Homo sapiens: one gene and its partner. The protein of the gene in region 1 purifies or fractionates together with the protein of each later gene. This does not show direct contact. Each region holds a gene or a part of one and is shown in the gene's direction. Other genes may lie near its edges. The genes, in order: NELFCD and IGHMBP2.

What was found.
Region 2: the proteins of NELFCD (region 1) and IGHMBP2 purify together in Homo sapiens (affinity purification with mass spectrometry; one large-scale study listed by BioGRID and IntAct). This does not show direct contact.

The regions. Positions count from the first base shown.
Region 1 is NC_000020.11:58,987,588-58,991,398, forward strand, and holds part of NELFCD (negative elongation factor C/D), read left to right. Parts: intron 1-120; coding exon 121-230; intron 231-1,326; coding exon 1,327-1,434; intron 1,435-1,900; coding exon 1,901-2,053; intron 2,054-2,270; coding exon 2,271-2,401; intron 2,402-3,322; coding exon 3,323-3,488; intron 3,489-3,724; coding exon 3,725-3,811. UniProt on the Homo sapiens protein: Essential component of the NELF complex, a complex that negatively regulates the elongation of transcription by RNA polymerase II.
Region 2 is NC_000011.10:68,917,390-68,921,200, forward strand, and holds part of IGHMBP2 (DNA-binding protein SMUBP-2), read left to right. Parts: intron 1-346; coding exon 347-494; intron 495-3,811. UniProt on the Homo sapiens protein: 5' to 3' helicase that unwinds RNA and DNA duplexes in an ATP-dependent reaction. Specific to 5'-phosphorylated single-stranded guanine-rich sequences. May play a role in RNA metabolism, ribosome biogenesis or initiation of translation.

The DNA.
Region 1 (3,811 bases):
AGTGGTCAGAAGCAATTCTTTGGTATTTGATTCACATAGAGACTTTTGACCATTTGCTTTCTAAAGCCACACAGTGAATGGACAGCTTGCCATTGTCTAGTTGCTTTTATTCTCTTTCAGGTGTTGAGCCAGTGCAGGTTCAGGAAACTGTGGAAAATCACTTGAAGAGTTTGCTGATCAAACATTTTGACCCCCGCAAAGCAGATTCTATTTTTACTGAAGAAGGAGAGGTGAGAAATTATTTTTCTTTGCCTAGTACCAGGCCCTAGGGTCTTTTGCAAATTCCCTGTGTACAGTGGAGCGTGGCATATCATGTAAGTAATGGCAGAGTTGAGGACTAAAATCAGAGTGTGAGACAGAAGTTGCATCTAGTCAGAATTGCCCTTTAAACTCTGTACCCAGGGTCGTGACATGCTTGCACGCAAGAGGCACACAGGTGCTGAGATCAAGAGAATGAACAGCAAGTTCCCACCATTTCCCCTCTCAGGCTGACTCCAGGGCACAGCCCTTGGAGTGTTGTGGTGGATTCGTTTGGTTCCTCCAAGAAGCAGCTGCCAAGACAGGGCTAGGCCTGCAGGAGATGATGGGGAAGCGACTATGAGGGAAGATGGGGTAGGGCTGGAGGAGGCTGGGGTAGCTGTGATGCAGTCTGACCCTTGAGGGCAAGAGAAAAGGAATGAGGGTTAGTAGGAAGAATGTTAGGCTGCAGTGCAGTTTCCAGAACGTTCCAGCCATATCAGTGGGGAATCTTTAAGCCACAGGTGCCCATTCTGGGAGCCCACGTCTCCTGGACAGGCCTGCTTTTGAGGCCCTGCTGCATTCCATCTGTGGCTGGGAGCAGCCTCGGGGAGCTGGCCTTGGCACAAACAGGATGGCAGGTTCAGAGCACAGTCCTTGAGGACATCCGTCACATAGGAGAGCTGAGAGAAATGTTTTTCTGGCTACTCCATGTGGTGATGGGCCAGAACACCTGTGCCATTTAAATGGCCTCTTTCTCTTTTGCTAAGGGCATACAAGCTGGGGCAGCATGAGCTCCCTGTGTGTGCAAGGCAGCTCTATGCGGTTCTCGGTGTCTCCTAGGAAGCAACTTTCAGTACCCTCCTGTGTTGAGTCCGATTTTCTAAAAGCTGAGCGGGCATCTAGGGACCTTTCTGTCACTCAGCCGACTGTGTGGCTGTGGCCAGCTCTGGGTCTGCCTCCCCCAGAACTAGATGCCCATGGGGAGTCCATCAGCACCAATCTCCTGTGATCGTTTATACAACAGAATCTCCACTCAAGTAAAAGTGGGGCCTCCTCCTATCTTGCTGTTTGTGTGTGTGTTGGCAGACCCCAGCGTGGCTGGAACAGATGATTGCACATACCACGTGGCGGGACCTTTTTTATAAACTGGCTGAAGCCCATCCAGACTGTTTGATGCTGAACTTCACCGTTAAGGTAGGAAGAGTTCTAGAGTTAAGGAGAAAAGTGTTTATGAATGTTTATTTTTGGTTGTTGGTCTGTTTCCTTTGACAGTTCATATTTGCTTTTTTTCCATAAAGGTCTTTATTGTTTTATTTTCATAAGCCTTACACTGAGAAAGAAAAGTGTAAAATTTGTATCTGTTTTTGGGTCAGTGTTGACTGTGTTTTAGGATTTAGCAGGGATACAAGAATTCTCTTGTGGTTGGAGAGGAGCTTTAGGCGTGCCTGCTTGATCTTCCTCTTGCATATGAAGAAACGATGGAGAGGTGGTCAGCCCAGGGCACACACCTAGGTGATAGCAGGGTGAGGGCGGAGTGAAGGCCTGAGACCCACGACCAGCGCACACTTACTCCACCTCACCATGAACACTGACAAGCCAGCTTCCCGTGGAGGTGCGGTCACTGCATGCCTCCCCTCTGACTTCTTGTTTTGTGTCCTAGCTTATTTCTGACGCAGGGTACCAGGGGGAGATCACCAGTGTGTCCACAGCATGCCAGCAGCTAGAAGTGTTCTCGAGAGTGCTCCGGACCTCTCTAGCTACAATTTTAGATGGAGGAGAAGAAAACCTTGAAAAAAATCTCCCTGAGTTTGCCGTAAGTTCTTTCTTTATGAACCTCAGATTAGAAGGAGGCTGCTTTGGGTCTTGGTTTTCAAGCATGAGATGCTCCTTCCCTGGAGAGAATCTCCATTTCTGAGGGCACCTTCCAGGATGCTCACTCCCGGGCCCGAGCACGGTGGAGGCTTGGCTCTCGTCCGCCCGTCTGTGCTACAGTAGTAAACCCTGCCCCCTCTCTCCCTGCAATCTTGCAGAAGATGGTGTGCCACGGGGAGCACACGTACCTGTTTGCCCAGGCCATGATGTCCGTGCTGGCCCAGGAGGAGCAGGGGGGCTCCGCTGTGCGCAGGATCGCCCAGGAAGTGCAGCGCTTTGCCCAGGAGAAGTGAGAGGCCCTGTTTCTGCTCAGCCCTTCCTTCCTAGTGCTCCCCACAAAACCCTTCCCATGGCCCGTGTTCCACAGCCAAAGCTGCTAGCTCCTTCTGTTCAACGTAGAGGTAAACTTGCTTTTGGCTGGGCGTGGTGGCTCACGCCTGTAATCCCAGCACTTTGGGAGGCCGAGGCGGATGGATCACCTAAGGTCAGGAGTTTGAGACCAGCTTGACCAACATGGAGAAACCCCATCTCTGGTAAACAAAAATACAAAATTAGCCGGGTGTGGCGGCACATGCCTGTAATCCCAGCTACTTGGGAGGCTGAGGCAGGAGAATCGCTTGAACCTGGGAGGTGGAGGTTGTGGTCAGCCAAGATTGCACCATTGCACTCCAGCCTGGGCAACAAGAGCAAAACTCTGTCTCAAAAAAAAAAAAAAAAATTAAAAACTTCCTTTTATCCAGCAGAGCTGGAAAAGTTGGAGTTGTTTTTGGTATACTTGGAGAGCTGGCTTTCTAAAGTGCTGCTTTGAGGACTGTTGTGTAAAGCACTTGATTCGTCTTCCCTTTGCTGGAGTTATGGGCCTGGGCTTTTACACTGGGGTTCTGAAGTAACAAACAAAGTCAGTCCAGAAATAGTTGCTCAGCAATCTCATTGTTACAGTGTCGCAAAATGAGCTCATATTAGCTTTATTTTCTGCTACCAATAGAGTGTTCCTAAGTATTTAAAGTGTGTGACTCCTTTCTTATAGAGCCAGCAAGCTGTATTGGAATCACTTTTCCAGTGTTGTAAATGTTATTTTTGTGGGTCAGTCAGTATACTCGTGAATGACAGAAAAACAGATCCCAACAATGCAAAGTATTATATGTGTAAAAAAGAACAGAAAAAAGAAGCTGCCTTGTTAGTAACGGGGTCTATGGTTTTTCTCATCAAGAGGTCATGACGCCAGTCAGATCACACTAGCCTTGGGCACAGCTGCCTCCTACCCCAGGGCCTGCCAGGCTCTCGGGGCCATGCTGTCCAAAGGAGCCCTGAACCCTGCTGACATCACCGTCCTGTTCAAGATGTTCACAAGCATGGACCCTCCTCCGGTTGAACTTGTAAGTTGCTTCTCAAGAATCCCCAATGTCAGCTGGTAAGGTGACTTTGGAAAGTCTGTGCTTGTCTGATTGTCTGAAGGCTGTGAATGCAAATCCATCATTGTCCTGGTCCTTCCTCAGTCACACTCTCTGCCTGGAGCCTGTTGGGCCCCTGCTGTGTAGGGAACCCTGAGGGGAGGTGGGTGAGCAGTGCCCTCACGCCTGCCATCCCGAACTGGGCATATGCTTCTCCTCAGATCCGCGTTCCAGCCTTCCTGGACCTGTTCATGCAGTCACTCTTTAAACCAGGGGCTCGGATCAACCAGGACCACAAGCACAAATAC
Region 2 (3,811 bases), on another chromosome or scaffold:
TCGTAAGCTCCTACAACCCAAATCCTGGGGCGGGCAAGCGCTTTTTCTTCCCCAAGATCAAATGCCTGTGTGCAGGGCAGGGCTGGTCCAATTTCTGGTCTCCTCTGAGTTAAAAACGTGGTCTCTTTCCAGGACTTAAAATGTCTCTTCCTGTGACTTCAAGGCAAGTGAGGATGTAAGGTGCTTAGTTGCGTGTGTGTATCTGTGTCTCTTTCAAGGAAGATTTCTGAGTGTTTTTTACGGAGTTTATTGAACTGGACTGAATGATAGAAGCACTTCATAAATAGAGTTGAAGAAGTACAAAGTTGGACTGAAGTAAGTGTATCTCCTTTGTTTTTCTTTATAGGTGAAAAACAAAAAGACCCAGGATAAGAGAGAGAAAAGTAATTTTCGAAATGAAATTAAGCTGTTAAGAAAAGAACTGAAGGAGAGGGAAGAAGCAGCTATGCTCGAGAGCCTCACTTCGGCAAACGTGGTCCTTGCAACAAACACAGGTGAGGGGGCGTCTCCATCCTGCCTGTGTGGCCTCGAAGAAGGAGTTGGGGTGTGTTCCCTCTTCTGTTTTCTGGAAGAGTTTGTTTAGAATTGGTATTTCTTTCTTAAAAGTTGGGTAGGGTTCACTAGGGAAGGCCTCCGTACCTGCAGTTTTCTTCATGGAGAGGTTTTGAACTACAAATTCAACTTCTTCAATAGATAAAGGGCTGTTCAGGTTGTTTTTCTTCCATGAGCTTGTAGCTTTCAAGAAGTTTGTCCATTTTATCTAAACGGTTGAATTTAGAGGCATGAAGTGGTTCCTAATATGCCCTTATTCTTCTTTTACTGTCTGCAGGATCTGTCATGATATAACCTGTATTATTCCTGATACTGGTTTGTGTGCTCTTTTTTTTCCTGCTCTTCTGGCTGGAGGGTTTTTTTTTTTAAATTTAGATTTTATATATACATACATATATATTTTAAGAGACAGGGTCTCTGCCAGGCGCAGTGGCTCACACCTGTAATCCCAGCATTTTGGGATGCCAATGCGGGTGGATCACCTGAGGTCAGGAGTTTGAGACCTGCCTAGCCAACATGGTGAAACCCCATCTCTACTAAAAATACAAAAATTAGCCAGGAGTTGTGGTATGCACCTGTAATTCCAGCTACTTGGGAGGCTGAGGTAGGAGAATTGCTTGAATCCTGGAGGTGGAGGTTGCAGTGAACCAAGATCGCGCCACTGCACTCCAGCCTGGGTGACAGAGCAAGACTCCGCCTCAAAAAAATAAAAACCCCAAAACCAAAAAAACAAAGCAAAACAAAAAAAGAGACAGGGTCTCACTATGTTGCCCAGGCTGGTCTCAAACTCCTGGGCTCAAGGGATCCCCCTGCCTCAGCCTCCTAAAGTGCTAGGATTACAGGTGGACCCACCGCGCCCGGCCTGGCTGCAGGTTTCAATTGATCTTCCCAAAGAACCAGCTTTTGCTTTTTCTCTATTGTTTTTCTGTTTCATGTATTTCCACATTGATCTTTATCGTTTTCTGTTTTCTTGGGCTTGTTCTTTTTCTTGCTTCTTAATGTAGAAGCTGAGATCATTGATTTGAGACCTTTCTTTTTTTCTGATACGAGCATTTAGCTCCATAAATGTCTCCCTAAGTACTGCTTTTGTGGCATCCCACAAATTCTGATCTGTTATATTTCATTCATTTCAAAATGCTATCTCATTTGCCTTTTGGTTTTTTAGAAGTGTTATATAGTTTCTAGATAGTTGGGAAATGTCCAGATATCTTTCTGTTGTTGATCTCTCCTCTCCTCTCCCCTCCCCTCCCCGTCCCCGTCCCCGTCCTGTGTGGGATCTCACTGTGTTGCTCCTCTCCTCTCCTCTCCTCTCTTCTTCTCTCCTCTCCTCATCCCTGTCCCCATCCCCATCCCCGTCGCCTTCCCTATCCCCATCCCCATATGGGATCTCACTATGTTGCCCAGGCTGGACTCAAACTCCTGGGCTCAGGTGATTCTCCCAGCTCAGCCTCCTGAGGAGCTGGGGCTCCCTGCATGTGCCACTGCACCTGGCTTACTTTCTGTTATTGGTTTCTAATTTAGTTCCATGTGGTCAGAGGACATACTCTCATGACTTGGATAGTTCATCGAGACTTACTTTATGGTCCAGAATCTGGTCTCTGTCTTTGTGAGTGTTCCATGCACACTTGATAGAACGTGTGTTCTGATTTTATTGAGTGTTCTGTAAGTAGTCAGATCATGATGGTTGATGATGTGGTTCAAGTCTGCTGTATTGAGAGAGGGACGTTGAAATCTCTGAATATAACTGGACATGTCTGTTTTTCCTGCAGTTCTATTGGTTTTTGCTTCATATCTTTGGAAACTCTTTTACTGGGGTCATAAATGTGGGGCTATGTTTTCTTGATTAATTAACAAATTTATCATTATGAAATGACCTTCTTTATCCCTGATAATATTCTTTTTTTGAAATCTACTTTGTCTGACATTAAAATAATCATTTCAGCATTTCAGCTTGCTTTTCTTTTCATTATGGTCAAAAACCTGTAAAATTTACCATCGTAACCCTTTTTAAGTCTGTAGTACAGTAGCATTAATTGTATGCATGTTGTTGTACAGCAGATCTCTAGAACATTTTCATCTTGCAGACCTGAAGCTCTGGATCTGTTGAACAGCAATTCCCTTTTTCCCTGTCCCAGATCCTGGCAGTCACCATTCTCCTGTCTGTTTCTAAGAATTTTATTATTTTACATACCTCAAGTAAGTGGAACCATGCAGGATTTGTCGTCTTGTGACTGGCTTGTTTTATTTAGTGTAATGCCCTCATGGTTCATCCATGTTGTCCAGCTTTCTTTTTATTTTTAAGAGACAGGGTCCCAATCTGTCACCTAGGCTGGAGTACAGTGGTGCGGTCAAAGCTGTACTCCAGCCTTAACCATGAATGTGGGACCTCCAGCAATCCTCCCACATTGACCTCCTGAGTTGCTGGGATTAACAGGCGTGAGCCATTGCACCCAGCCCCCACCTTTCTTTCAACTAGTGTTAGTGTGATCTATCTTTATCCTTTTTCTTAGAACCTATTTGTGTCTTTATGTTTAAAGTGATCTTTTAAAAAATATTTGAGACACGGTCTCACTGTGTTACCCCTAACTGGAGTTGCAGTGGTGCAATCATGGCTCCCTGCAGCCTCAACCTCCTGGGCTGAAGTGATTCTCCCACCTCAGCCTCCTGAGTAGCTGGGACAACAGACACGTGCTATCACACCCTGCTCATTTTTTTGATTTTTAATAGAGACAAGATCTCACTGTGTTGCCCAGGCTGGTCTGGAGTTCCTGGACTCAAGTAGTCCTTCCACCTCTGCCTCCCACAGTGCTAGGATTACAAGTGTAAGCCACTGTGCCTGGCCTGTTTATTTCTTTTTAAAGAGAGAGTCTTGCTCTGTTGCTCAGACTGGAGTGCAGAGGCGTGATCATAACTTGCTGTAGCCTTGCATTCTTTGGCTCAAGTAATCCTCCCACCTCAGCTTCCCGAGTAGCTAGTACTGTAGGCATGAGCCATTACACCTGGCTAATTTTAAAAATGTTCTTTTCTTTTTTCCTTTTAGAGATGGGGTCTTGCAATGTTGCCCAGGCTGGTCTCAAACTCCTGGCCTCAAGTGATCCTCCCACTTTGGCCTAAAGTGAATTTTTTTGTAGATAGCATATAGCTGGGCCTTGCTTTATTATCCAGTTTGACAGTTTCTGCCGTTTGTTCTTTGTTATATTTTCCTCCTCTTCTGCTTTCTTTTAATTAATTAATTGAACATTTCTTTTTTTTTTTACAT